Regions from separate parts of the Homo sapiens genome. Here regions 1, 2 and 3 are each reported to be linked to region 4. Evidence: microRNA targets listed by miRTarBase, many of them from high-throughput screens and not tested one by one. Region 4 holds a microRNA gene; each other region holds the end of a gene's coding sequence.
The links. The annotated mature microRNA hsa-miR-1277-5p reads AAAUAUAUAUAUAUAUGUACGUAU and lies in region 4 at 2,044-2,067, shown strand. An mRNA with a match to its seed (bases 2 to 7 or 8) in the 3' UTR can be bound and repressed. Matches are read on the target gene's strand: a 7mer-m8 pairs with bases 2 to 8, a 7mer-A1 pairs with bases 2 to 7 and ends in A, and an 8mer does both.

Region 1: miRTarBase lists RTN4RL1 as a target of hsa-miR-1277-5p. Seed matches in the 3' UTR shown: 7mer-m8 at 1,443-1,449.
Region 2: the mRNA of HMGXB4 is a reported target of hsa-miR-1277-5p. Seed matches in the 3' UTR shown: 7mer-A1 at 3,781-3,787.
Region 3: the mRNA of CAPN5 is a reported target of hsa-miR-1277-5p. The part of its 3' UTR that is shown has no 7-base or 8-base seed match.

What each region holds. Positions count from the first base shown.
Region 1 is chr17:1,930,098-1,937,213 of GRCh38, reverse strand. It overlaps RTN4RL1 (reticulon 4 receptor like 1), which reads left to right. Exons shown (of 2, transcript NM_178568.4): 2 at 1-2,537. The coding sequence ends at 718. Among named protein-coding and RNA genes, the nearest start is that of RTN4RL1-AS1, 84 kb to the left of the region's middle. RefSeq lists enhancers at 4,432-4,996, 4,997-5,562.
Region 2 is chr22:35,292,442-35,299,560 of GRCh38, reverse strand. It overlaps HMGXB4 (HMG-box containing 4), which reads right to left. Exons shown (of 11, transcript NM_001003681.3): 10 at 6,447-6,569; 11 at 3,754-5,954. The coding sequence ends at 5,910. It also overlaps a transcript of TOM1 not described here. Among named protein-coding and RNA genes, the nearest start is that of TOM1, 3.9 kb to the left of the region's middle. RefSeq lists an enhancer at 1-92.
Region 3 is chr11:77,122,717-77,129,821 of GRCh38, reverse strand. It overlaps CAPN5 (calpain 5), which reads right to left. Exons shown (of 13, transcript NM_004055.5): 13 at 3,667-6,134. The coding sequence ends at 5,952. MYO7A (myosin VIIA) reads right to left here and starts at 1,576. Exons shown (of 49, transcript NM_000260.4): 1 at 1,333-1,576. RefSeq lists enhancers at 1-721, 1,444-2,167, 2,168-2,890.
Region 4 is chrX:118,384,358-118,391,476 of GRCh38, forward strand. MIR1277 (microRNA 1277) reads left to right here and starts at 2,037; the gene lies at 2,037-2,114. It overlaps WDR44 (WD repeat domain 44), which reads left to right. Exons shown (of 20, transcript NM_019045.5): 3 at 2,983-3,057.

The DNA of each region.
Region 1 (7,116 bases), not on the chromosome of region 4:
GCTGCACGAGAACCAGCTGCAGTGGGTCCACCACAAGGCGTTCCACGACCTCCGCAGGCTGACCACCCTCTTCCTCTTCAACAACAGCCTCTCGGAGCTGCAGGGTGAGTGCCTGGCCCCGCTGGGGGCCCTGGAGTTCCTCCGCCTCAACGGCAACCCCTGGGACTGTGGTTGTCGCGCGCGCTCCCTGTGGGAATGGCTGCAGAGGTTCCGGGGCTCCAGCTCCGCTGTCCCCTGTGTGTCCCCTGGGCTGCGGCACGGCCAGGACCTGAAGCTGCTGAGGGCCGAGGACTTCCGGAACTGCACGGGACCAGCGTCCCCGCACCAGATCAAGTCACACACGCTCACCACCACCGACAGGGCCGCCCGCAAGGAACACCACTCACCCCACGGCCCCACCAGGAGCAAGGGCCACCCGCACGGCCCCCGGCCCGGCCACAGGAAGCCGGGGAAGAACTGCACCAACCCCAGGAACCGCAATCAGATCTCTAAGGCGGGCGCCGGGAAACAGGCCCCCGAGCTGCCAGACTATGCCCCAGACTACCAGCACAAGTTCAGTTTTGACATCATGCCTACGGCCCGGCCCAAGAGGAAGGGCAAGTGTGCCCGCAGGACCCCCATCCGTGCCCCCAGCGGGGTGCAGCAGGCCTCCTCGGCCAGTTCCCTGGGGGCCTCCCTCCTGGCCTGGACACTGGGGCTGGCGGTCACTCTCCGCTGAGGACCCAGGGCGTCAGCACCCAGCACTGCCACATGTCCACCAAGGAACAGAATTTATTTTCTTCTTTTTTTAACAAGTGGAAGATCTGCTGGGTTTCAGGAAAAGGCTGGTAGAGCCTTCGGCTGCTGTCTGGACGTCTGGACCCTGCCATGTGGATTATAAACCCAAAGTGTACAGCCCTAGGCGGGAGGGGGTGGCGCTTCTCAGCCGGCTGTCCCAGCCAGCCCCGCAGAGCGCCCACGGACAGTGTCCACTCTGGCAAGGTGGGAAAAGGCACTCCAAGTGCATCCTCCACTGGCAACAGTGGGACAATTGCCCCCGACGGCGGCACCGGGGCTCTGTGGAATCCCGATCGTTCCGAGAGGTCTGGAGGGCCCCGTGGTTCCTGGAGAAAGCAGGACGCAGAGAAGAACAAATGAGGCTCACCCACGAGGCTGGGTGGCCAGCAGTCTGGGCACACACGAGCAGGTGGCATCTTGGCTCTTGCCTGAGGCCAGTCACCCTGCCCTGAATTCTATCCTACTCCACCTTCAGCCCCTCCCTCGGGGGTAGCGCCTCTCATTCCTGATGTCTCAGGCAACCCTGGCAGACCCAGGTCCAACTGCTGGGGTCCAAGAACCAATTACCAAAGGAAAGATCATCAGAGGCTGAAATCTAGAACTTCATCCCGGGCAATGAGGTTCTCACAGAAGGTGCAGTTTTATAACTAACTACGTCCACTTATATATATTCACACTCTACATATATATATATATATATATATATATATATATATATATATATACACAAATGCACAGTCCCCCTCCCACTCCGTTACCTAACTGTACGTCTTTTCATGTTTATAAACTATACAGAAAACTGTATTTGCTGAACTAAGGATTGTATTGGTGATTTCTAGCAAAAACAAAGTGATAGAATTTTTGTCTAGAATCCCAAACTGGCAACGATAGTCTCCAAGGGACCTGGCCTTGCCAAGGGCCTGGGGCAAGGTGTCGGCGGGACGGTGAGGAAGGGGGAGGCAGCAAGAGTCACTTTGGGGGACCAATATTCTTAGATATTTAGAGCATCACCTTGTTTTTATATGCAACACAAGCCTGTCTGCCACCCTGGAGCGCCCTGTCACCCCTGCTGTCGTAGCTGTTGGCTTCAGGGTGAGAAGTGAGAAGCAGCTTATTGTATATGAGGGAGCCAGGCCCCGAGGGTGAGCGAGATGGAGAAGGGGAAGGAAGGGGCTTTGGGATCTGGAAACCAGCAGGCCAGGCAGCATCCACAGTGTTAGTCCAAAGGGTCGGACCGTGTCGTCAGCCTAGCGTTTGGTCAGTGACGGCCTGGACGGGCCAAGGAGACTCCGGGCTTGAGCCCAGGCCTCCCGCACGGCTCAGCTGCTGAATTTTTCCTTGAGGCTGTTTGGTGTGTGACCCAGCAAGGGCCCTGTGTGGGACAGCAGGAGGGAGGCGTCGGGGGCCTTAGCAGAAGGGGAACAATGAGGGCATTTCATGAACCATCTCAGGCACTTCTGCATCACGGAAGACCTGGCCCTCCCAGCCGTCCTGGGGATGCTCAGGGTGCAGGCAGAGGCTCGGGAGGCCGGACTCAGGGGTCAGAAGCAGGGACTGGGGCAGGCGAGCCCGGACAGGGAAGAGGGGCTCCGATCAAAGCCGGCCGTGCTGCTGGCCGGGGGCCCAGGTGGGTACAAGCTCCTTTGTGCTTTGCACAAACCTGAATCCCCCACCAGAGAGGATGTGTGTGAGGAGCCAGAAACGCTGAATCCAATTAAGAGAGAAAAATAATAATAACAATAAATGATCTTGGACAAGAACCCTGTTTTTCATTTCCTAACCCCGCATTCCCGACAGGTGGCAGATCCTGGGCTTCTGTGGGTGGGCGAGCCTGGCCGGGCACAGCTCTGGGAACACAGCACATTTGTTGGCGGGAGGAGCCGCAGGGGGCAGGGGCGCACTGATTCACGGGACACATGAGAGCACGCACACCCTGGTGCTCCGTTTCGTGGCACTTCCCTTGCCCGCACAGATCATGATTCACTTTCCACATTCTGACTGCCCCGGGTCGGCACCATCTCCGTGGCTCTCCCCGGAGGAGGCTGGTCCTGGGTCCTTCCTGGCCTATTCCCGGGAGTCTCCGGAGCAATGGCTAAGTGACTGATCCTCAGGGCGCCCGGCAGGCGGCTGGTGGGGACGGGCGGCTGCAAGGAAACAGTCAGTACCTGGGGCCCAAGGAGTTTTCCAGGAGGCTAGGGACCCACCCGGACAGCTGTGGGTGGGCTTGGAGACTGCACACGTCTCTCTGGCTTCAGAGAAAGGAGAGGGTTCCCCGGATAGAGGGAGGAAGGCTGTGTTTTCAGGCCTGGCTGGACAAATCCTCCTCAGTATGAGGCTTGGGGCATTCACTAAAGGGAGCCCAGTGACTGCAGACCAAAGAATCCTCAGCCTGCACCTGCTCCCCTGTGGCCTGCAGGCTCTGACCCAGGCCGAGGTGCTAGGGCCTGGCTGTCCCTTAGAACCCAAGGATGTTGTTGTGTTGTTGATTTCATTTCCAGCTTCAGACAGCAAGGCCCTCAGTGGGAAAATCAAGAGTCTAAGCACTTTATTAATTTTTTTTTTAAAAAAAGACTTAGGAAGTCCTGTAATATGGAAGTGAAATGTCAGTACGAGAAATGCTAATGTTTTATAAATGATCCGCTTCTGTCAAGCACAGCACAGTCTCTGGTTGCCGACTGTTATTAGAGGCAAGGCAGTGGGGGCCCAGGACGCCAGGTATTTTTAGCAGCTTTCTCCTCTAAGAGGTAGGGGGAATCAAGGCAGCTCTGTTGCAGACGACATCAGTTGTCACTCAGCAGCTCATGCTACGCAGTTATGATGACACCATCGCCCCAAACATCAAAGCAACTGGACGCGTCAGGGGCGAGGCAAAAGCTTCTCTATTCGCCAGCTCCAGCCCCTTGCGTCTGGTTCAGGGCATGGAGATGCAGATTCCTGTGGTCTTCCCAGAGGCGGGGGCCACCCCTCCGCTGCCATCTTCCCACTTTCCCTGGACCCCCAGAGGGAGTCATCTCTTCTCCCTCCCAGCCCTCCTGCCACACAGGCCTCCACTGTGGACTGATGGGGACAGAGCCACCCCTGTTGGAGGGGCTGGGTGGCCACTGGTGGTCTCCACTGTGGACTGACGGGGACAGAGCCACCCCTGTTGGAGGGGCTGGGTGGCCACTGAAGGCCTCCACTGTGGACTGATGGGGACAGAGCCACCCCTGTCGGAGGGGCTGGATGGCCACTGGTGGTCTCTAAGGCCTTTCACACAAGCTCCTCCCCTGACCCCAGAGCTTGGCTGGCTCTGCATAGTTCATTCAACAAGGGCTGATCAGGGACCTCCGTGTCCAGCCACTGGCCAGGCTCTGGGGACATAAACGTGAGAAGACGTGGCTCGGGGCAAAAGGAGCTCAGAGCCTAGATGTAGAAACAAGTATTCGCAACTGGTATGGAGTTGGCGCTTGTGGTAGCACCCCTCGGCCCCCAAAATGAGGAGCTCAGCTGGGTGGGGGCAGTCAGAGAGGGCTTCCAGGCAGAGGTGACACTCCAATGAGTCTTGGAGGATGAGGAGCCACCCAGAGAAGAGTGTGGGGAGTAGGGCTAGAGGTGGTAACAGCACTGTGTCTGGGGTATCCACAAACCACTCCCAGCTGAGGGCATGGGAGACGCGCCCTGTATGGGAGCGGCCCAGGGGACTCTGCTCAGGGACTCCACTCTGCCGTGGAAGTGGAGGGGCTGTGCGGTCCCCCCGACCTGGTCGTCCTCCCGCCCACCCCCCCCAGCCTGTCCATAGGCACGTGGTTTCTGACCGTGGCAACCTTGCCGCGGTTCTTCAACAGTGGGTTTCATGGTGGAAACTTGCCTCCTGGGCTCAGCCAGATCCTCCCCTGGTGCCAGCAAGCTGGAGCGCTCGCTGGAAGTCTGCCTGGGCCACAGGCCCATTCCCAGACACCTGCTGCTTCCAAGCTTGGGAAGCATTCCACGGCCTGCGCTCCCTGCTTCCCAGCCGCGGCCGCCCTCAGCCCCTCCTGACTTCGGAGCAGCTCAGATCACCCCGGCGCTTCTGCCTGTGCGGGCTGTGACCATCAGCCAGCCCCAGAGCCCCTCCCACCAACCGCACCCCTCCTCTCCTGCCGGGGCTGTTCTTTGCAAAAGCCAAGAATCCCATTTAGCAAATGTTTACTCATCACCCAGCTAATCACCAGCGCTCTGCCGCCACGGTGAATGGGCTCCAGGAAGGCCTGTGAGCAGGTTGGGGGGAGCGGGAGAGCCCGGGAGGCCTCGTGGAGGGCAAGCTGCAGGGACTGGGGTCAGAGGGAAGGAGTTTGCTGCGGAGGCTCCCTGGAGCCACCGAGCCCTCAGCAAATTCCCCTGGACATGCACGCCCGCTTCCCAGGCAGGCCCCACCAGCCCATGAGCCGACCCACCTCTCTGCCAGGGACCCAGCTCCTCCGGGCCCTACTCTATGCTGACCTAGGGAGGCAGTCTTTCTCTGCGTTTATTTGTCCTACTCTATGCTGACCTAGGGAGGCAGTCTTTCTCTGCGTTTATTTGTAGCCTCCTGAGGCTCAAACAATCCTCCTGCCTCAGCCTCCTGATTAGCTGGGACTACAGGGACACACCACCATACCAGGCTAATTGTTTTATTATTTATTTATTTATTTATTTTTTGAGACAGAGTCTTGCTCTGTCGCCCAGGATGGAGTGCAGTGGCGCGATCTTGGCTCACTGCAACCTCCACCTCCCGGGTTCAAGCGATTCTCCTGTCTCAGCCTCCCAAGAACCTGGGATTACAGGAGCAAGCCACCGTGCACGGCTAATTTTTGTATTTTTAATAGAGATGGGTTTTCTCTACATTGGCCAGGCTAGTCTCGAACTCCTGACCTCATGGGATCCACTTGCCTCAGCCTCCCAAAGTGCTGGGATTGTAGGTGCGAGCCACCACGCCCAGCTAATTTTTTAACTTTTTAGTAGAGATAGGGTTTCACCATGTTGGCCAGGCTGGTCTCGAACTCCTGACCTCAAGAGATCCGCCCACCTCGGCCTCCCAAAGTGCTGGGATTACAGGCTGGGCCAGCGCACCTGGCTGGTGTTCATTCTTTGAGGAGGGGTGGGTGCATGCTTTGATGGAGTCCCTTCCAGCCCCCGTTCTGAAGCCTCCTGACCCGGTTCAGCTCCCCGCCTTGCCCTCTAACTTCACTTTCCTCTAAGCAGGAGTTCAGCCATCAGCCGCGACTCCATCCCCATCACCAATCCCCCACTATCAGCTCGTAATGGGCCAATTTTCTTTTACCTTCTGTCTACTTGGAAAATATCTCAAGAACCTTTGATTGTGCGTTAAAATATCCTTTAGAATTCTATGCTCGGTATCTTTCTGCTCCTCTAATTGTCCCTTTTAACTCACCGTGCTTTCCGTATAAATCTCCCGGTCTCCTCCTTCCCAGGCTGTTAATAAATATGAGCTCTAAAAAAATACATAAACATCTATTGTTGGCTAAATAACTCACGGCACAATCAAAAAGCCGGGAAAAGAAGAGAGGCTCGGCGCGTCGCATGGCCACCTGAGCACCCTCCCTCGCGCGGTCCTGCCGGTCTCTCCAGAGAGGGCTGCTGAAGGCAGGGGAGTCTGGGCCCTGAAGAGCCCATGAGGTGAAGGGACCCTGGGGGAGAAAAGGAAGCGAGGCAGAGAGAGTAGCTGTACTACCAGGGGGACAGGGCTCTCTCCAAGAGCGCCGAGTGAGGGGTTTGGACAAAGGAGACCCTCGTGCAGGGAGCAGCGGCTGGTTTAAGTGGCATTTCAGTGGGCTGGCCGCCAAGGCCCCTCACCACCACAAGAAGTGGGTCAGCCTCCTCTGACACCAGCGCCAGCCCACAAGGAGGGGGCCCGCCCCCATCTCTCTCCTCTCTGCCCTCATTTCTCATTAGAGCCGTTAGTTTCTAAGCTCCAGGAGGGTGGGGAAGGATGTGCCTTTGTGTCACCGATTCCTGTGTGGCAGCGTGCACACTAATGGCATGCCTGAACGGCAGAATTTGACATTGCTGCTGCAAGATGTGCTTGGGTCACAGTGCTTTCCAAATTGGCTGAGGCTCCACGCCACCCCCCTCCTCCCTCACCCAGGCGCCTCAGAGCCCCCGCCAGCCACTGCTTCTGCAGCTCCCTCTGAGGGCCTCGGAAAAGAGAGAGGAAGCAAGAGATGTATTAAACTCTTCCATCTCTGTAAGCACCATTTCCCAGGAGACCGACTCTAAGGAAGAAGGAAACACAAGTGCTGGAGGCCTACACAGGTAGGAGGTTGGGAGGAGGCACCAGGCTTCGTGTCTCCTCTCCCCACCCCCGGTACTGCTTTGGGGACA
Region 2 (7,119 bases), not on the chromosome of region 4:
CAGAAGCCGAGACTCTTAGGGTCATAGCCCTTAGTCCTTGGGACCTCACTGTGACTGCACACCTACCCTGGGTGACAGCCTCTCTGGGCTGTTGTCTCCTTGTCCCGGTAAGACTCTTCCTGTTTGATGTCAAGGTCTCCCCGCTCCAAGATGCACCCTGCTCGCAGCCCAAATTATCTTACCTTAAATCAGAGGCAAGGGCAAGGGGTTTGTCATCTGTTGAGACTGAGAGGCAATTTAATGAATTGCAGCGCAATTCCCTCTAGCGCCCAGGATGGCAAAAAGCACAGATGTAGTCACGAGTGGGGCTTTAATACCCGTCTCTGCCATAAATTTACTGTGTGAGCCAAACATAGCTCCCATTTTCTCTAGATACTGGAATTAGATCAAGGACTCGTAACCATTTTTAAAAAATATTTTATTTAGGTCACAGTCTCCTTTGAGAATTTGACAAAAGCCATGAGCCTTTCTGAAGAAAAAAGGCAGCGATACAATTTTGCTTATAACCTCAGGGAGTTTCTGGGGTCCCTGAAGTACAACCGTGGACCCCAAGCTAAGAATCTCAAAGGCCTTTCCCAGCGTTGTGATTCTAATCTCTTCAGCCTTCCTGGCTGTGTGTGGTGTGTCTGCTGACACCTACACACTAGATACCTATCTATGGGTTATGACCTTTTCTTCTGGCATGTACTCCAAAAATACAATAACCATGGCCTTAGTAGTCTGGCTACTGTGGGTGCTTAAGTACTTATTGTGATGTTTGTGGTTTTTAAATCTGAAAGGCTAGTAAATTGACTGCACAAATTTTGGATGACAGAAAACCTAAATTAAGCAAGGTGTGGTGGCTCACGCCTGTAATCCCAACATTTTGGGAGGCTGAGGCAGGTGGATCACCTGAGGTCAGGCATTCAAAACAAGCCTAGCCAACATGGTAAAATGCCGTCTCTACTAAAAATACAAAAATTAGCCAGGTGTGGTGGTACACGCCTGTAGTCCCAGCTACTTGGGAGGCTGAGGCATGAGAATTGCTTGGACCCAGGGGGGCAGAGATTGCAGTGAGCTGAGATCGTGCCACTGCACTCCAGCCTGGGTGACAGAGTAAGGCTGTGTCTTAAAAAAAAAAACAAACCTAAATTAGAACTTAATCACCTCTGTAGATTCACTTGTTTGAGCAGCCATGGGGTCCGATGTCTTTACTGTACAATATAAAAACTGCTTTGAAGTGTTTCCACAACACTCATGAGACCTGTTCACAAATGCCTTTGCCCCCACGAGTCTGGATGTCCCTGGGGGCTGGGCTACTATTTCTGTTTTGCTCCCCACTATTGTCTAACCCAGTAACTAGCACATGAAAGCTTAAATAGATCTACGTTTCAGTAATGGTATTTGGAGTATAAGCGGGGAGAAGGCCATTTAAGATGACCTTCAGGTCAAGGCACTTTCCATGTCTTTCTTCACTTAACCTTATTGCTTGGTCATATGGAGTTATGTTTAGCATGAACTTCTTTTGGATTCTTCCATTAACCTTTATTTATTTATTTTTAGAGGCAAAGTCTCACTATGTTGCCCAGGCTGGTCCTTGAACTTCTGAGCTCAAGTGATCCTCCCACCTCAGCCTCCCAAAGCCCTGGGTTACAGGCATGAGCCACCATCTCTGGCCCTTCCTTTAAGCTTTTAACAAGTTCTTGTAAACTTTATTCATGGTAAAAAAAAAAAAAAAAAAAAACAAAAAAAAACAAAAACAGAGACAACTCATATGCCCCCAAACAGGAAGTGGAATCATAAACTCCATGCAGGCTGGGCACGGTGGCTCACACCTGTAATCACAGCACTTTGGGAGACCCAGGCAGGCAGATCACGAAGTCAGGAGATCAAGACCATCCTGGCTAACACGGTGAAACCCCATCTCTACTAAAAAAATAGAAAAAATTAGCTGGGCGTGGTGGTGGGCGCCGTGGTGGGCGCCTGTAGTCCCAGCTACTCGGGAGGCTGAGGCAGGAGAATGGCGTGAACCTGGTAGGCGGAGCTTGCAGTGAGCAGAGATTGCACCACTGCACTCCAGCCTGGGAGACAGAGCGAGACTCCGTCTCAAAAAAAAAAAGAAAAACAACTCCATGCAAACTGATTACTATATAGCTATTGAAACAGAAATGGAAGTATATGGATTTATTTATTTATTTATTTTTAAAGACAGAGTCTCTGTCACCCAGGCTGGCGTACAGTGGTACAACTGTAGCTCACCGTAGCCCTGATCTCCTGGGCTCAAGTGTCTTCCCACTTCAGCCTCTTGAGTAGGTGGGACTGCAGATGCATGCCACCATACCTGGCTAATATCTTTTAGTTTTTGTAGAGATGGGGTTTTGCTATATTCTCCAGGCTGGTCTCAAACACCTGGCCACAAATGATCCTCCTGACTTAGTCTCCCAAAGTGCTGGGATTACAGACACGAGCCACTGCACCTGGCCAGTATATGGATTTTATCAACATAGTAGATAGGGATGTAAATGGCAAACATTAAAGTTAGTACAAAACTGATTAAAACTGTCTTTAAAAAGTGTGCTAATAAGGAGCAAACTGATTTAGTAAAAAGTGTTTCAATTTACTTTTTAAGTGTTTTAGTAAAATTAATATCATGCCTTACTGAGGGTTAAAATGTTCAAATTTCTTAAGATTGACAGTCTGCATAAATGTAATCTATTAAATCCTTTAAGTGCTTACAGACAAAAATCAAGATACCTTGCCTTCAAAATTTAAAGACAATAGTATGACAAGAGTGAAAGCCAGCTAGATACCCGAACAATGCAAAGATCTGAGACAGCATTCCCACAATCACATTCGCTCAGGACTTGAGATAATGGAAAGCATTCTGATGAATTATAGACATGATTTAAATCTGAAAGTAGCTTGGGGTAGAAAAGAGCCTAGGGTTTGGGGTCAGCTGTTTCACTGTTCTTAATCTGCCTTTGCCATTTACTAGCAGTATAAACTTAGGAAAAGTACTTTTTCGCATCTATAAAGGGAGATAATATTCTTAAGGCTTTGGGCGGAGGATGAGTGAGACAAAGTATGCAAATCACTCTAATAGTCACTCAGTGATACGGTAGTCTCTTCCTTGCTGCCTTTCCATAAGACATTAGCCTTGTAATTAATCATATTATTTTACTATTTATGACTTTTAACACCTTGTGTTTGCACTGAAGTTTTTACCTTGAAAGGTCATATCTCCATATATTCAGTGTTCATAATGTTATTAAACATTCATGTCAGGCTGGCTGGCTGCAGGTCTACAGACAGGGAAGTGACTTTAACACTATTCTATAGATGGGACTTTGGAAGCCTATAAAGATTAAGTAACTTATCAACAGCATTACTGTAATGCTAACAGGACAGTACTGAAACATATCATTTAGCACATGATTCAGATGCAACCCTTATATAAGATTAATCAACATTTTCTTGATTTAGGCCAACACCATAATGCACATAGTTTCATTTGCCAATAAATGGAGGTGGAATTATCAGATTCACTAAATTTGCAATTTGCAAAAGAGAAAATGAGAACCTCTACAATGTAAAAGTTAATAGAAGCAGAGTAAGGAGTATATTAAGAAAATGGCTAAGATTAGAAATTTAATCTCCATTGTGGGTTGATTTTTTTCTTAAGAAAATTATGGTAGAATAGAGTGAAAAACAGGTTTTATAATTTCATAGCAACTATGATGATCATGATTAGGGAAAAGACAGCTGAGACTGGACTACAAATATTAAAAATGTGATTTTTAATAATATAAGTACAAAATTTTATTTCTTTATACAACTGTAATGGGATTTGGATCAAACCACTAGAATTTATTTAAAAAACAAAATAAAACAATGATATAAAAACTGCAAGAAGGTCTGAATCCAAAGTTTTTCCTCTAATAGTACCAAATACCACAAGGTACAGATTATTATACAAATGTGTACAAATTTTAAATACAAATACAATAGGGCTGGGTTTCAAAGGAAAACAAACAAAAAGCAGGTCCTCATCAGGATTTCATTAATGTATATAAATGACAATGCTAGGATTAATGTCTTCCTATACTATCCATGTCTTCCCCGCCCCTCCTAGATACCCTGTGTCAAACAGGAAACTTCCACAGATACAGAAGAGGCATGGTACAATGTTCTAACACATGAAATCAAGTTAAGATTTCTGTTCCTCTTGATTTTGGTTCTCAAACAATCCTGTTTCTCTGTATTCCCAATTAAATCTTAAAACTGCTCTGAGCTGAGAAAGGGATTCAGCAGCCAGACTACCTTTAAGCAACATAGCCCTGTGACAACACTGGTGGGGAGAAGGGAAGAAATTAAATAGGATGCAGATGGGCTACACTGTCCCCAAAGATTTACTTTGATGCTGTAGTGCTCTGTCAGGGCCAGGAGAAGAAAGCACAGTTAACTCAGAGCTTGGTGTTGGCAGAGAATCTCATACCAAATTTAAAAACCATCCTGAAGTGCTCAACTGTCTTCTTTCCAACTGGGAAACAAACGTCTGGTTCTCTGGAAATAAGGGCAGCTGGGGATGGTAACATTCCTCTTTATTTTACTTTCTAGACATTATTGAAGCCCATGAAGTTCTTTATAAAGAATTAGAATCCTAACACAATGATTCATTTTTGAGGTAAAATACCTTAAAATGTAGATGATTCAGAGTTTTTGGAACAGACCAGGAGGAAGGAAGGAAAGAGGGAAGGAAACAGGGAAGGAAGGAAGGAAAGAAGGGAGGGCGGAAGGGAGAAATGACAAATCTGTATCTTCCACATGCTGTTGCTGGTGGAGGCTTCTGTTATTAAATTATATATACAGAAATTTACAGGATAAATTAAAATCTAAGAGATTTTAAAGAGTTAAATACACATAATTAAAATACACATTCACACACACATAAATAAACCTACAAGAGAGTGAGTTTTGTTTTGTTTTTGCAATTCACTTACATGTGGAATGCAGAACACTGTGTATCTGCCCACCAGGGGAACTGATAAGATGAACCCAAAAATCATGCTGGGCAAAGTTTATCCATAACCACCGAGCAACTAAGCAGCACGGCTTGTGAGGACTTGGTGGCTAACTTCATGCTGCCAGTGAAAGACACCAGCACTTAATTCTGCCGACTAAAGATTCTGGGTTAGCTCAGAATGTATGGAGGTCCAACTGGTGGCATTGACAGCTTCACCCCCCAAGGTGTTTTTTGCTGCCAGGGCTCACAGAACTCCTTGGCCTCTGTTGAGGCCACCAATGGTACCAATGATTACAATAAATTTTGAGACACAGACACCTATACAGTAGGAATTGGAATGAACCCTCTACTCAATTCACCTAAGCCACTTCCATAACTATAAAGGGAACAAATTTTATCACCTCCCACCTAGGTCACTTCAAATTGAAAGGCTTTGAATTTTCAGTCAACTGGCATCTTCCCGTTATCTTTCCTATTACATTTCAGACTAAGACAGGTAAGGCAAATGGTCAGTGATGGGTCTGGAGGTCCAACTGAGCTTGGAAAATAATCACATTTTAGCTGTCCATAAAGAGATGCGCTTGGCACCCAGAACAAGCCCCCAGCCCCCAAGTTACATTGATTTTTAAGGCAGATTTATCCACCACAGGAGAAAAAAGAATCCCAAGCCTGTATTCATGCCAAAATTTCCTCTTGGCTAAACCTTTGCCATTTCATAAAATTATTAAAAGCAAAGTAGTTACAGTCTATGTATATATTGTACATTATATATATATGTATATATGTATGTATAGATATAAAAATTTAAAACCTACAGCCAGAGGCCACTGAAGGAATCTGCAACAGTCATATATACACAAACCAGCAATGGTGTAGGATAAGGTTTCTGTCCCAGGATTCTTTGCTGTCACAGTCCCGGCATGATGTAAGCAATGTTGTCTAATGTGTTTGACTGCAAAACAAAGAAAAATGTTCAACTGAAGAGTACTGTACCTTGGTTTCCTGAGAGATGTTTCTTTGTTCAAGGAGAGAGATAAGAAAAATCAAATGGAGTTAGAAAAACAGGTGAGAATGAAGACGGCATCCTGCTGTTTGTTATGCTAGGAACTTTTCTGCTGACTTCTCCCATTAATCCTCGTAAAAAAGAGGGAAACAATTCCTGTACTGTCTTTGGGTGCAGAATAGCAAACAGGAAACACAGGAATTGTAGTACCTCAAGGGCTAGAATGCTGCTTTCTTAAGTACTGTTTTGGTAAATGGCTTGTTTTCTAGTTTCAGTGAAAGTACAGCATGCATTTGATAATATAGCATCATGTTCCATGGGCCAACAGATGAAGGAAGCACTGTGTGTCACAAAGCCTTATGTGTGTCTGACAGTGCTCATTAAGGCAGGGCATCTCTGACGCCCAATGGATCTGACTCTAAAAATCCAGGGAAAACTCACCAAGACCTGTTTGGGACAGCCATTCAATTCAGGTAGTTGTGTGGTGAGACATGCCAAGGGGCCAAGGGCACAGATAATGGAATCCAGAAGCACTGACAAACTGCCAGACACAGCCACCATACCCTGAAAAGGAGAGGAGGTTGTTGCTTGAGTCACACTCCTGATGCTGTGTTCCGGCTGACTTCCTCACACAGTACTTTAAATCCTAGGCAGTTCTACTCTTATAATTTGAAACTTTACAGCAGAAATGGAAAGTTTACTTTGATAACTCTGTAAGTTGTTTAGAAAGAAAACTTTTACAGCACATTCCCATGTTCCCTTTCCGTAATCCTAGCCCATCTTCTTACCTTCTGAGTGACCTTGGGGAGTTCACATCCTTAACTTCTGTCTCCTTAACAGGAACAGTAAAAAATGCTTTACCTACTCTGGAGAGCTGTTGGTAAGATTTGTGATTATGTATGCAAAGTATATCTGTTATAAACTCGACAAATATAGCTCAGATGTGATTACTATGAGAATCCTACAACCCTGCATGTATGTAGCTTTTGATAGCTGATTATACAATTTTTCTAGGTTGAGTTGTTCACTCTCAAAGTGAATTTGGTTCAAATTTTAACATTTTATGTAATTCATATTGTCTATTTGTGATTCAAAGAGATAAGAAAGACTGTTG
Region 3 (7,105 bases), not on the chromosome of region 4:
ACACACTGGCCCTTCTACCTGAAATTTTGACTAGTGAATTTCCACTTATGGTTCATGGCTCAGTTCAGATGATACCTCCTCCAGGAAGCCTTCCCTGACCACTCCCAAGCTGCCAAGAGCCTCTATATTCCCCTTTATCCCATTTTGACTATATGCATTATGTTGTCAGGGTAAGGGTCAGTCCCACCTCTGCCCCCAAAGTTGGCGAGTTGATCCAGGGCAGGATGTGGCCAATGGGAGAGGGTCTGAGACATTGCCTTGTCTCCAGCCTTGTCCAGCACAGGGCCAGACCCAGAGACGGCCTCAGGAAGGAGCTTAAAAGGCAGCCCCAGCCTACAGACCCTGGTATGAGGCCCCTCTGGCTCCCAACCTGTCTCCTAGAATGCGCATCAATTTTTCACAAGGGCCCATTCAGAGCCGCCGGGGCATTCGATCCTCTGCCCATGACACTGCCCGACATCCGAGCCCTGACCCCTGCCCTGGAGCTCTGGGACACAGCAAACCCACAGTCCTTCCAGAGACCTGAACTAGTCTGGATGCCTGGTGGAGATGTGGATTCAACAGGGCCAGCAGGCAGTTGCCACCGGGCACTTGTCTGAAGATGGTGCCCAGGCTGTGGAGCAGGCGCCCTATGCCAGCATGAGCCATGAGGGCTGGGGGCAGAGCCAGTGCTTTCACTAGAGACATGGGGCTCCAAGGGATGGGGGAGAGTGGTGAGGGCGTGAAATTTAAGGGCCACATTTTAAAATGACCAGACAGACATTTCATTTCTAAAAATGAGAACTAGACCACCTTCAAGTTAATTTCTTTTCCAACTGACAACAGGGGGCATAGACTGTATTTGTATTTCTATGTCTATACCTGATTTTACCTCTTCCCCACTACAACCCTGGCTGTTGGGGCTTCATACTCCCATTTCACAGATGGGATATTTGGGGCATAGAGGAAGGAAGTGACTTATCCAAAAACGGAGATAAAGAGTGTCAGAGAGAAAGCAAAGGAGACAGAGAGAACGGACTCTTCTCTCTGCCACCACAGCATGTCTATTCCCCTGGCCCCAGGATGCCACTAACCCCAGCCCCAGCTCAGAGAAGATTCGATGGACAACATGCTCCTTGGCTCTTCCCTCCTCCAGGGGACACACATCCATCTTCCCAGGCTCGGGACAGTTTCATTCAGTGGCTGTGGTGGCTGAGCCCTCAAGGGTGGCAGGAAGCCCAGTCCCAGGAGCAAGTGGCTGTGGGGCAGAGGCTCTAGAGGTAGCTCAAGTCCATGACTCCTCCACATCCAAACCCCTCCCAATGCCCAGGACAGTGGGCAGCCCATCCTTACCTGGGGCCCAGCTGCCCACTCTCAGTGACCTGCCAGCCTGGTACAGCTGCCACCTGCACGGAGGACTCAGGAAGCTGGGTCACGGGCCCAGCCAGTCTGCAAACACACGTCCCCTCTTCCTCTGTCTGGCTCCAAGTCTCGTTCTAGGCGTCCCTCTGGGTCTTTCCCTTCCTCGCCGTCTCTCTGTGTGTGTCTCTTGTCTCTCCCTCTCTCTCCTGCCCAGAGCAGCTGTCCAGCCAGCACTGCTGCCCTCCCCTCCTCACTCCAGAGCCTTCTCCCAGGAGGCGGAGCCGGAGGGGGCCTCCAAGGTCTGGGTGCGGTGACATCAGCGTGGGGGACGGGCCGTGCTGGGGCTGGGACTAATGTCCAGAGGCTGCTCAGGGCTCTGTGCAGAGCACTGGCTGCCGACAGGGAGGCGGGGTCATTGGGGTCTGTCTCTGGCTGTGCTGCTGAATGCACCGCACCTGGGCGTGGGCCCCCCAGGCTAGCTTCAGGTGCCTCCTGTTGTTTGCAGGACACCGCCTGCTGTCTCAGCACCTGAGCAGGAAACCGCACCTGATCCTGACTTAATCACTGATGTGCTGGGGTCTCAGCCCCATTTCTTCCTCCTCTACCTGGCTGTTTGGGACTCAGAGAGGGAACGGTCAGGCAGAGCATGGCAGGAGGGAGAGTGCTGAGCTAAAGCCCTGCCTTCTGCGCCTTCTCCCTCCTGCACACCCACCCTTGCCTCTGATGTGTGTTCTCTGACGCTGGTCAATGCAACATTGCCCCCACAACCTGCTCTGCGGGTTGGGGACACATGTTATTCCGTAATCATCCAGAAACTTTGCCAAACCAGCTGACTGGGAGCCACCCCACGTGTGACAGCGACACAGATAAACTGAAGTGAAATCTGTGATTTAAAGGAGTGGGGGGAACCAAGCAAAGAGGAGCACACGTCTTTGTTATTAGCGTTGTCGAGGATGGAGACCTCGCGCGGCCCTATCGGGACATGACAGTTTCTCCTTTCCGCCCTCGGCAGCCACGCAGCTGTCGGCGGCCCCATAGTGCACCTCGCCAGGGCAGCTCTGGGTGGCAGAAGGATGTCTCTTTTGGGTCCCTAGCCCCCATAACTGGGGTGTCTGCAGGGAAGCTGCCCAGAAGGTGGGGTGGGGGCCCAAAGGGGCGCTATAGCTCGCCAGCGCCGCCTGCTGGTCACAGGCCCCACTGCCCAGCTGCTTCCGTCAGGCGGGCTGAGCACCGCTGGGAAGTGACCGTGACAGGAGTCAGCTTCTGCTAGGGCCTGGGTCCCCTCAGACCCGACGACCCTGTCCCAGGAAGACCCCAGGATGCCGTCTGCCCCTTAGCCTGCTGGCCTAACAGGAGTCCAGGAGTCCCTGGAACACAGTCCCCACCTGGGATTTGCACCTGCTGCCGAAACCCAGTACTGGCCACTCCTCAAGTCCCCCCTCTCCATCCTCCCAGGCTGGGCGGGGCCAGTGGCGTCAGCCCTACACGGATGGGGAAATGAGACCCCGGGGGAGCACAGGAGAGCCCATGGCACACGACTGGCAGCAGGGACAAAATGCAGTGAGCTGTGGGAATGGGGCAGAGAGGTGGGCAGGTTATGGGGGACAGGGCGGCCTCCAAACACCAGGATGACAGCTACATTGTGTTCAGCCATGCTATGAACCAGGCACTATGCTAAGCAGATCACACGATTTGCAATACCCATTTCTCAGTCCCATGAAGAAAGCGAGGCATCTCGGTTCACTTTGCCCTCACACTGCACTCACCCCGTCTCCCAAGTCGTTTTTCATTGAGTCGTCCACTCTGCTTTCAGTCATCCCAACCCTGCTTCTCCCCACCACCACACCAGCTTCCTGGCCCTAGATGCCTGCATCTGCCCTCAGCAGCCTCCGCTCTGGTCCCCCCACACCTTCCTGTGCCCCGAAGGCCCATCTCCTCTTCCCAGCCCTTCATGCACAGATCAGGGAGTAGGCCGTCTCTAACCCAGCAGGCCCACACTGCCCCATCAGTAATGTGCGGGGTAGTGTCTGTCATGACCAGAGTATGTCTTTGTTCTCGCTGCTCGTTTGTAGACTGTCCCAGAGCAGGGATTGCTATGCCTGGTTCCCCACATCCCAGGTGCCCGGGGCAGGCCTTGGCACAAAGCCAGCCCCGTACAGATCTACTGAATAAAGGAATGACTGAATGATCCCCACAATCTCAGCTCACAGGTGCACCGGGCAGGCAGCGGGGCCTTCCCTCTGACCAGCGGACAGTCGCCCAGGCCTGGGGAATATTCCTCCATTGTCCCTTCCCCCCAGGGGGACAGAGGGACACAGGAAAGTCTTTTTGGAATTTTGTAAGATTTATTGAGAATAGAACAGGCTTCCTGTCCCCTAACCCTGTGGTGGATCCTGAGAAGAGGGAAGCCTAGGTCTGGGTGGTGTGGGCTGGAGGCCCTACCCACCTGCAAATGGGGACTCCCAGGCCCCCGCGGGTGCATACAGTGAACAAAGTAATTGCTCTCCCCTATCACCCCTGATCCTTACCTGCCTGGCCCCCAAGGTCTCCTGGGGACCAGAGATCCCTGCATAGCCAGGAGCCAGCCTGGCCCACCTCAAGGGGCAGGAAGCAAGGGTAGCACTGTGGAACCTGTTTTTGTCAGGGGGTGGCAGGCATGCCCCGGCCCCGAGGCTGAAGCCCACAGGTCTGCCACTTGGTCCTGGTGTGCCCCTGTATCCCAGGGGACATGGCTGAGCAAAGTCCTATGTGTTAGCCTGAGGTGCAAGCTGGCTCACTTCACCCCCTACTCAGGAGCCTTGATTTGAAATAGACATCGAGAAGTGGTGATTACATGAATGTATATATATATATATATATATATATAGTGCGTGTGCATACAGAGATACATAGAGAAAGGGGTATTATTTTGCCCTTACTCAGCACTCGGTAGTAACAGTGCTGACACACAAGAATCATTGGCCCCACTTTGTAGAAGGGGGAAATCGAGGCACAGGAGGTTTAAGTGACTTGCTCCCAGTCATGCAGAGTCCCGGCCCCAGGCCCAGGTTCTTGAGGGGAAGTCCCGGCTTTCAAGAAAGAACACTCTTATCCTCCTTGTCGTTCATTTCCTGGCCCCTCATATGGCCCAGGGCCAAGACCCAGGAGCAAAGCCAGACACAGAGTGAGGAGGCAAAATCAGAGAATCCAGCACCTCCAGCCAGAACACTGATCCAGACAGCAGGATCTGGAGTCGGAAAGTCAGGTTCCCAAAAGGAAATCCCAGCAAGGACACAGGGATTCCTGTTCTTGAATTAACTGCACTTTTTCATTTGCTACACCTGGTCTGGAAGCCCGAGAAGGGCACAGCAGAGATCCCAAGTGGGTCACGGCACCAGTGCTCACGAAGAGTTCTCCAGAGGACCAGCAAAACTGGAGCCAAGAAGAAAAATGGAGGTTCAGGCTTTCAATTTTCTTTTAAAACCCCTGATTAAAATTGAGATTTTCAAAACAAAAAGAATATAAAACATTGAGGACTAAAAGGAACATTTTGGTCTGGGCAGGAAGAAGAGCACTGCGGCCTCCTAGGCTGCATTTTGGGGGAATGTTGGTGGGGGGCTGTGGTCAGGTGATGGGGCTCCCTATCTCCTGCCGAGCCCAGTGGGTGGCCTGACTCTGGTGAGCACCACACACCCCAGAGTCCCATCTTCCAGGAAAAGCTGGGGTCTTACAGCAGAGAGGCTCTGGGAGCACATCTCCCCTTCTGGTCCCCAAAGGCCCCCAGCTGCCTGGCCCCTGGCCCACTAACCCAGGCATGCTCCTTCCAGCACTGGGCAGAGGAGTCAGGAAGATGCCCTTCCTCACCCCCACTGACGCCACCTCTCCAGGGACCTTAACGCAGGGGCTGGGAATGGAATCGGAAGCTAGAATGAGCAGGCAGCAGCAGCTCCCCTAGGTATCTGCCTCTGAGAGGACCTGAGGACAGAGGCGAGGCCCAAGGCAGAGGCCGGAGTAGGGCCCCGCTTCACCTGGGGCCTCAAAGGTGTCGTTTATTCATTTGGCAAATCTCCACTGAGTGAGGAAATGGATGGGTGAGAGGATGGGATTAGAGAATGAACAAATGTCACCTGCATATTTTCCCAATTCCAGCCTGAGCAGGAACCCGGCAGGAGCCAAGAGTCCTTTCAAGGTGGGAGAACACCAGGTATTGCTGATGGGGAAAGTGAGGTCTGGGAGGCTGGGTTGGGCCTAGGACACGAGGGGCAAGAACGGAGCTTGGGGATGTGGCAGTTCGTGTGTAAACAAGTGACATCTTCTTGGCGCTCCTCGGCAGACAGCAGGGCCTTAGGAAAATGTGCTCAATGGATAGAGTCCCTTAGCAGTGGTGACAGTTGAGGTGGGGAGGACTATTTGAAATCTCAGCAAGGAAACTCCTCCACGAGAATGGAATGCTTCGGGGCCCTCGGGACACTGAGGCTGAGAGAGGGGCAGAGACTTCCTAAGGTCACACAGCAAGTCAGTGGAAGAGTGGGAAAAGGACCCCAGTATCCTGGCTCCCAGGCTAGACTCAGGCCCAGTGGGGACATGCAGATGGTGGTGGGAACGGTCAGAGCCAGGTAGGTGGGCAGGTGTCAGACAGCCATGAGGGAGGTGCTGCTGAGAATGTGCACGGCCACAGTGCCTGGCAGGTTGCTGGGCTGCCGGCTATTTCGGTCCCGGAGGTGGAGGGTATGCAGGGCCTGGAGGTTGTCCGGGTCAGCCTTTAGGTGCACCTGGCCCAGAAATTCATCCTTCAGCACTCGGTGGTTCCAGACCTGGGAAGAGACAGAGGATCATGGGAGGGGCGGGCTACCTCCAAGACCAGCAATATAGGTCTATGGGGGGTGCTGGTGGTGGTGGCAGGGCCTTGAAGTGCAAGCCTGGCTGAGGATCGGGGGCCCTGGGCTGTCTGCCTCCCCATGAACTACGGGCAAGGTGGTGCCCCTTCCAGAGCCTCAGGCTCCTCAGCTAGCTAAGCTCCCTCCCATGCATAAAGTGAAATCTGTTATTAGCTCCGCTGTTGATCTTGGGTGAACTTGGACAAGCGGTACACCCACTGCCCTAGTTTCCCCATCTTTAATATGAAGGTTGAGTCAGCTGCCCCTAGGGGTCTTTCCAGCCCTGAGACATACAGGTCTGTGATTTGATCCAGTGGGACTCAGTGTTAAGAAAACTTGGATAAGCCACAGTGGCTCCCCCAGGGGGACCCAAATGTTTGTTTACAGATGCTGTCTCACTGAGAGAGATGCTGATCAAGGCCTGGGGGCCAGAGAGCTCCCTAGTATTGAGTTCAGAATCATCATCCCCAGGCCACATCAGCCTGAGAGGAGAAGGAAGCCATGGGGAGGACACTGGCTTTCTATCCCCTGCCCAAGGCTCTTGGGAAACAGCCACACGCACCACACAGTGGCTCAACGCCACTTTCCAGGTGGGCCCCCCACGGGGAAATGGGAGGGATAGTTCCCAAAGCTGAGGGTGAGGTCAGCAGAGATGACTGCTGTCCCCAGCCAGGAGATGGACCCTGCTGGGTCTCAGGACCACACCAACTAATCCAATTCACCCACCTACAGAGGGACCTTGGAGTGGCAAGAGAGCTCCCAAAGCCACACCAGGGGTCAGGGATAGACAGACAGCTAGAGCCCAGCATGCCTGGGTCCTCGTCAGAGGGTCTTCCACCTGGGCTTGTCCCCCTGAGTGGGGAAGCCTCAGGCTAGGAGCCCAGGAGGTGGCCTCTGGACCAGGGGGC
Region 4 (7,119 bases):
ATAAGGTCATTTCGAACGATAAGTGCAATGAAGGAAAATAGGATAATGTTTTCCCAGCACCATTTATTGAGTAGGGAAGCCTTTCCCCATTCTTTGTTTTCATCAGGTTTGTCGAAGATCAGATAGTTGTAGGTGTGCGGTCTTATTTCTGTATTCTCTATTCTGTTCTATTGGTCTGTGTGTCTCTTTTTGTACCAGTACCATGCTGTTTGGTAACTGTAGCACTGTAGCATAGTTTGAAGTCGGGTAGCATGATGCCTCCAGCTTTGTTCTTTTTGCTTAGGATTTGCCTTGGCTATTCAGGCTCTTTTTTGGTTCCCTATGAATTTTAAAATAAAATTTCCTAGTTCTGTGAAGAATCTCAGTGGTAGTTTAATAGTAATGGCATTAAGTCTATACATTGCCTTGGGCAGTGTGGCCATTTTAACGATATTGATTCTTCCTATCCATGAGCTTGGAATGTTTTTCCATTTGTTTGTGTCATCTCTGGTTTCTTTGAGCAGTGGTTTGTAGTTCTCCTTTCACCTCCCTAGTTAGCTGTATTCATAGGTATTTTCTTTTCGTGGCAATTGCAAATGATGGGAGTTTATTCCTGATTTGGCTCTCTGCTTGGCTGTTATTAGTGTATAATAATGCTAGTGATTTTTGCACATTTATTTTGTATCCTGAGACTTTGTTGAAGTTGTTTATCAGCTTAAGAATCTTTTGGGCTGAGACTATGGGTTATCTAGATATAAGATCATGTTGTCTGCAAACAGGGATAGTTTGACATCCTCTCCTCAATCCCATTACTGGGTATATACCCAAAGGAATATAAATCATTCTATTATAAAGACACATGCACACACATGTTCATTGCAGCACTATTCACAATAGCAAAGACATGAAATCAACCTAAATGCCCATCAATGATAGACTGGATAAAGAAAATGTAGTACATATACACCATGGAATACTATGCAGCCATAAAAAAGAACGAGATCATGTCCTTTGCAGGGCCATGGATGGAGCTGGAGGCCATTATCCTTAGCAAATCAATGCAGGAACAGAAAACCAAATACTGCATGTTCTCACTTATAGGTGGGAGCTAAATGATGTGGACACATGAACCCATAGAGGGGAACAACACATGTTGAGGCCTATCAGAGGGTGAAGGGTGGGAGGAGGGAGAGGATCAGGAAAAATGACTAATGTGTACTAGGCTTAATACCTGGGTGATGAAATAATCTGTGCAACAAAACCCCATGACACAAGTTTACCTGTGTAACAAATCTGCACATGTACCCCTGAACTTAAAGTTAAAAAAAAAAAGAAAAATAGGATAATGTGATAGAAAGTTAAGGAGTCAGCTAAGGCTATTTTGAGATGGTCAGGGAAGTATTTTCTGATAAAATAGCACTTGAGCTATGACCCTAATGGCAAGGAATCATCCTATTGGCCAGAATGTAATTGTGGGGGAGTGATATGAGAGGGAGATGAGGAGTGTAGAAGATATCAAAAATGTAGGCAGAGGCTATGTCATGTTTAGGCCTTCATGGGCCTTGGTACTGTTTGGATTTTATCTAATACTTAAGAGTCCATGAAACATTTTTTTTTTTCTAGAAGAATCTGTGTAAGATTGGTAGTATTCTCCAAATTCTGGGGGAGGAATTCAGTGCTCGAAGATATTGCAAGTCCTACAGAAATTTCACTGGCACGTTAAATCTTTAACATTTTAATAATCTCTGGAGTAATTTCATTATTGAGCCTATTGTGATCATATCCTGATACTTGTATAAGTGCCACCTAAATAATTAATGTGCCTTGAGTCCTTTATCTGTCTAAAATGGTTATAATGACCTTCCTCTAACAAACTCTGTGATGTGCACAAAGAATTATGGTTTTTTTTCCTCAGTATCAAGAGTAGCATTCAAATTGCTGTGCTTCTATAAATAGACAACTTAAGATTGAGAAGAGTATTGTATTGAGATTTGCAAATATATGATTGTCTTATTTTACCCTAATTTTTTCCAGCAGAAATGCAGTATCCATTTCTAACCTCCCAAATATATATATATATGTACGTATGTGTATATAAATGTATACGTAGATATATATGTATTTTTGGTGGGTTTAATTTTTTTCATCTTTTTTCATAGTTTTTTTAGGGGCTTCATTTAACTTCTGGTTAAGTCTTGATTTCTTTTATCTAAAGCATGTAGAATTTTAAGAAAACTATTCCCTGAATGTGGTTTTCTGTGTTATAAACTTTTGTATTTGTGCATATTTATGGAGCAATGCTTTGGGGAAAATAACAATTTTTATTCAGCCCCTTGCTTAAATCCTTAATCCTTTTTAGCTATAAAAGTACGTAGAAGTTCTTATCGTCCATTACAGTTTTTTAATGTTAAAAAGTTGAGCAAGTTTTCACATTTAAAGGTAAATATCCTATTGCAGAATAATAGAATATTGCTGATGGGTAACTTTCTTATGCAAATTACATTGTCCCATTTGGCATAAAATTTCTGAGCATCTATCAGTATTCAGAAATCTAAGCCCTTTAGGCTGGGCACAGTGGCTCACACCTATAATCCCAGCACTTTGGGAGGCTGAGGTGGGTAGATCACTTGAGGTCAGGAGTTCAAGACCAGCCTGGCCAACAAGGTGAAACTCTGTCTGTACTAAAATTACAAAAATTAGCCAGGTGTGGTGGCACGCGCCTATAATCCCAGCTACTCGGGAGGCTGAGGCAGGAGAATCACTTGAACCCGGGAAGCAGAGGTTGCAGTGAGCCAGGATTGTGCCACTGCACTCCAGCCTGGGTGACAGAGTAAAACTCTGTCTCAAAAAAAAAAAAAAAAAAAAAAGAAGAAGAAGAAATCAAAGCCCTTTAAGGGCCTTTGATTTATTAATGCTACATTTTCTCATTTGTACCCCTTTAAAGCATATTTTTAAAGAAAAGATGTCATCATTTGGTCTCTATTTCTTTTCTTTTTCAAACAGGAAACAGAGAACACTGCATACAAAGTTGGAAATGAGTCCCCTGTACAAGAATTGAAACAAGATGTGTCTAAAAAGGTTGGAAAGATACAATGTCAATATTAGTTTATAGCAGACATCATATTTATATGGTATATTTCAAACAGCTTTTATATTCTTTTAGTATAGCGCTCTGTACATGGCTGATGTTCAGCAAATGTTTCATGAATCTGTCACATTTGTGGTTGAAGACATTTCAGTCTTTTTAGAAGTCCTTTTCATATTCTAATTGGTAATTTATCCTTGAGACAATATTTTGTAAAATGCTTTTATTTTTTGTTCTTGTATTTTTATCAGAATAAGCCCTAACTCTTCTTGAGGTTACTACCAGGAGTTATGGGTATTGAAAAGCTCAGTGCAGCAACATTCTGATGTCTTTAGGAATCAGAAGTTATAAGAAGTCCTTACTCTGATAGTACCTGATACCTTTTAAAAAATTGATGCTATGAAGCTTCAAAGGTTGGTTTACTAGAAGAGACTGAGCACAAGATCAGTATTTTGAAAATGGGCAGTTTACAGTATCAGGATAAAACTCAAGGAGAAAGACAGGATGGTGTGTTTTTATTCATTTATACAAGTTTTAAGTGTTTTCTGTGCCCTAGGCAATGTTCTAGCCAGTGGGTTTCCAGAGGCTAACAAAATGACACATTCTCCACCCCAGAGTTTCTCCAGTACTGGCACTCGACATTTTGGGCTAATAGAGGGTAGGGGAAGGCCTGTTGTGTGCATTGTAAGATGTTTTAGCAGTATCCCCAGCTTCTACTTACTAAATGCCAATAGCATCCTCAACTCCCAATTATGACAACCAAATATATCTCCAGATGTCTGGGAAGGGGTATGGAACAAAATAACCCCTAATGGAAAACCACTGTTCTATCCTTATGGAATTTAGAAATTTAATGGACTACATTTTTTTTTTATTTGAGGCAGGGTCTCACTCTGTCGCCCAAGCTAGAGTGCAGTGGCACAATCATGGCTCACTGTAGCCTCCACCTCCTGGACTCAAGTGATCCTCCCACCTCACCCTCCTGAGTAGCTGGGACTACAGGTGTATGCCACCATGCCTGGATAATTTTTGTATATTTTATAGAGACAAGGTTTTGCCATGTTTCCCAGGCTGGTCTTGAAATTCTGAGCTCAGGCAATCCACCCACCTCAGCCTCCCGAAGTGCTGGGATTATAGGTGTGCAACACTGTGCCCAGCGAGACCACATATTTTGATATTGATCATACTTTTTCCTTTAAAGGAAAAATGTTCCCTTTTGGGACGAATGGTGGATTGCATAGCAGTGTACATAACAGGAATTGAACCATTTTTTTAAAAAAATAAGAAATTGCCTATAATTCTATACTATAACACACAGGTGTCTTGATTTTTCAGCATTTCCTTCTGGTCCTCATCCATTAGCATACATTTTTCTGCCTAATTGTAGTGTAGGTAGAATTTTATATTCTGTCTTTTACTCTTACCATTTTTAGATTTTCCTCATACTTCTATATGAGTTCTGTACTCAGATGCATCAGATTCCATCAAGTAAATGGATTACAATGTTATCTAGCCATTTTTATTGTTGAAACTTAAAATATTCCTGTTTTTTCCACTATAGCTTTTCTTATTTTTTAAAGAATGTTTTTCTTAGGATAAATAACAAATGTATAACTATCTATAGTTAGTGGGGAAAAAAGATGATTTTAAGGAGAGTTTAGAAGTTTAAACAGTAGTGAGAAAACACTGTGGAGCAGAATGAGGTTTAAGATTCTAAATAATCACTTTTTAAGTTCTAGCCTTTTCAGTTGAATTAAGTATGAATCACTAATGATAAAGGCTATGGGGATATACCCTGGACGAGGGCATACTCTGCTCTCGAGTAACTTACATTTTAGTAGAAGAAATTGGATAAACACAAAACTAAATGCAGTAAGTATTCAAATAAACTTAGAAGCTATTGTAAGAACACAAAGGGAAGGAGACTTCTTGCTTGGGGGTAGGAATGAAGATGACTTCATGGAGGAGGTAGCATCTGAGCTGGTTCTTAATGAATGCATAAGATTTGGACAGGCTAGGCCGGGCACGGTGGCTCACGCCTATAATCCCAGCACTTTGGGAGGCCGAGGCAGGCGGATCACCTGAGGTCGGGAGTTCGAGACCAGCCTGACCAACATGGAGAAACCCCATCTCTACTAAAAATACAAAAATTAGCTGGGCGTGGTGGCGTGTCCCTGTAGTCCCAGCTACTTGGGAGGCCAAGGCAGGAGAATCGCTTGAACCTGGAGGCAGAGGTTGCAGTGAGCTGAAATTGCGCCACTGCACTCCAGCCTGGTGACAGAGCTAGACTCCCTCTCAAAAAAAAAAAAAAAAAAAAGGATTTGGCCAGGCTAAGATGGGAGAGGAAAGGCATTACTGAAGGCATGGAGGTGGGGAATGTGCAGAACATTTGAGGATGAGCCTAGAGAGCAAAGTTAGGGCTGGATTATAGGAATGCCTTATGTCATACTAAACTGTCTGCTTTTTATTTATTTATTTATTTATTTTTTGAGACTTGAGTCTCGCTCTGTTGCCCAGGCTAGAGTGCAGTGGTGTGATCTCAGCTCACTGCAACCTCCACCTCCTGGGTTGAAGCAATTCTTCTGCCTCAGCCTCCCAAGTAGCTGGGTTTACACCAACACACCACCACGCCAGGCTAATTTTTTATATTTATTTATTTATTTATTTATTTTGTATTTTTAGTAGAGATGGGGTTTCACCATGTTGGCCAGGCTGGTTTTGAACTCCTGACCTCAGTTGATCCGCCCACCTCAGCCTCCCAAAGTGCTGGGATTACAAGCATAAGTCACCGTGTCCGGTCACAGTGAGCTTTTTGCAGCAAACAATGCTTTAGCATAATCATCTCTATGTGTGTCTTGGTTCTCATTGTTCTCTTAGTCTTTCCGTTTTCACTATTTCCTAAAATCCAGAAAAAAATGACAGGGCTAGGCACCATAAGAAGGTGTCATGAGGCATATCAAGAGGCAAAAAACATGGACCTTTCTCTCCAGGTACTAATTATCTGGTGTAGAGAAAATAAATAGAGCTAGCCTATATACAGCTCTGTATTTGTATTATAGTTCATACTATACTGAACAGTAAGAATAATAATAGAAGTGCAGAGGAGGGAGAGATTATTATCAGATAAGGGATTGGGGAAGATGCATTTTCAACCTCATTTTGACCCCTCTTGTGGCACAGACATTTCCATTATGTGTAGTGATTATTTCAAACCTTTATACTCACCTCATGCTCACTGTACCCACTCACATCCCCCTCACTTTCAGCCGATAACCTTGTTTCCTACTCCACGTAAATATTAGAGGCTAAAAAGCCTGAATCCATTCCTTTGTATCATCTTTCACTTCCTTTACCTACATATTTATTGTTATTTCTTACCTTTTTTTCATGTCATCCATCACTGAAGATTTAGTATTCTTGTTTTCTGTCCAAAGTAGTGTGGTATAATACAAAGATCACTGGATTTTTAAGTAAGACCTGGATTTCAGTTTTGGCTTTGTAGCTTACTAATTGTGGGACTGGCAAAATTCTTAAAGCCTTTACCTCAGAGTCCTGCTTTTCTAGGAGGGAGGTAATCCAGCTACCTAACCCAAAGGCCTGTATGACAATTAAATGAGAATGTGTATACTAGGTCTAATACACAGTAGGCCTTCTTTCCTTTCTTTTCCAGAACATTGCTCTGTTATCTTCTTTTCCAGTAGTTCCTTCCCTTCAGGTTATAAAAGTGCTGGGTCACTTTATCGAAGTCTTTTTGCATTTATAGCTAAGCTTTTTGAAAACTCAGACCGTGCTAATGTCTCTGTATCTTCACCTCTTATTCAATCTCAAATCCATTGTAATATGACTTCTGTTATCACTGTTATCATTGAGGTTCTCAGTGCTCAGTAACCACCTAATTGACAAATTGGTTGGACTCTGGTTAGTTTTGGTGAAAGCAAGGTAATTTCTAAGGTTAACAATTTGAAGTTTGAGAAAAACTAACATATAGAACATGCTAAGAAATCAGGGATGAATATTACTGAGCAGCAGTAATACCCAGTTCAAGTTAGCATGAA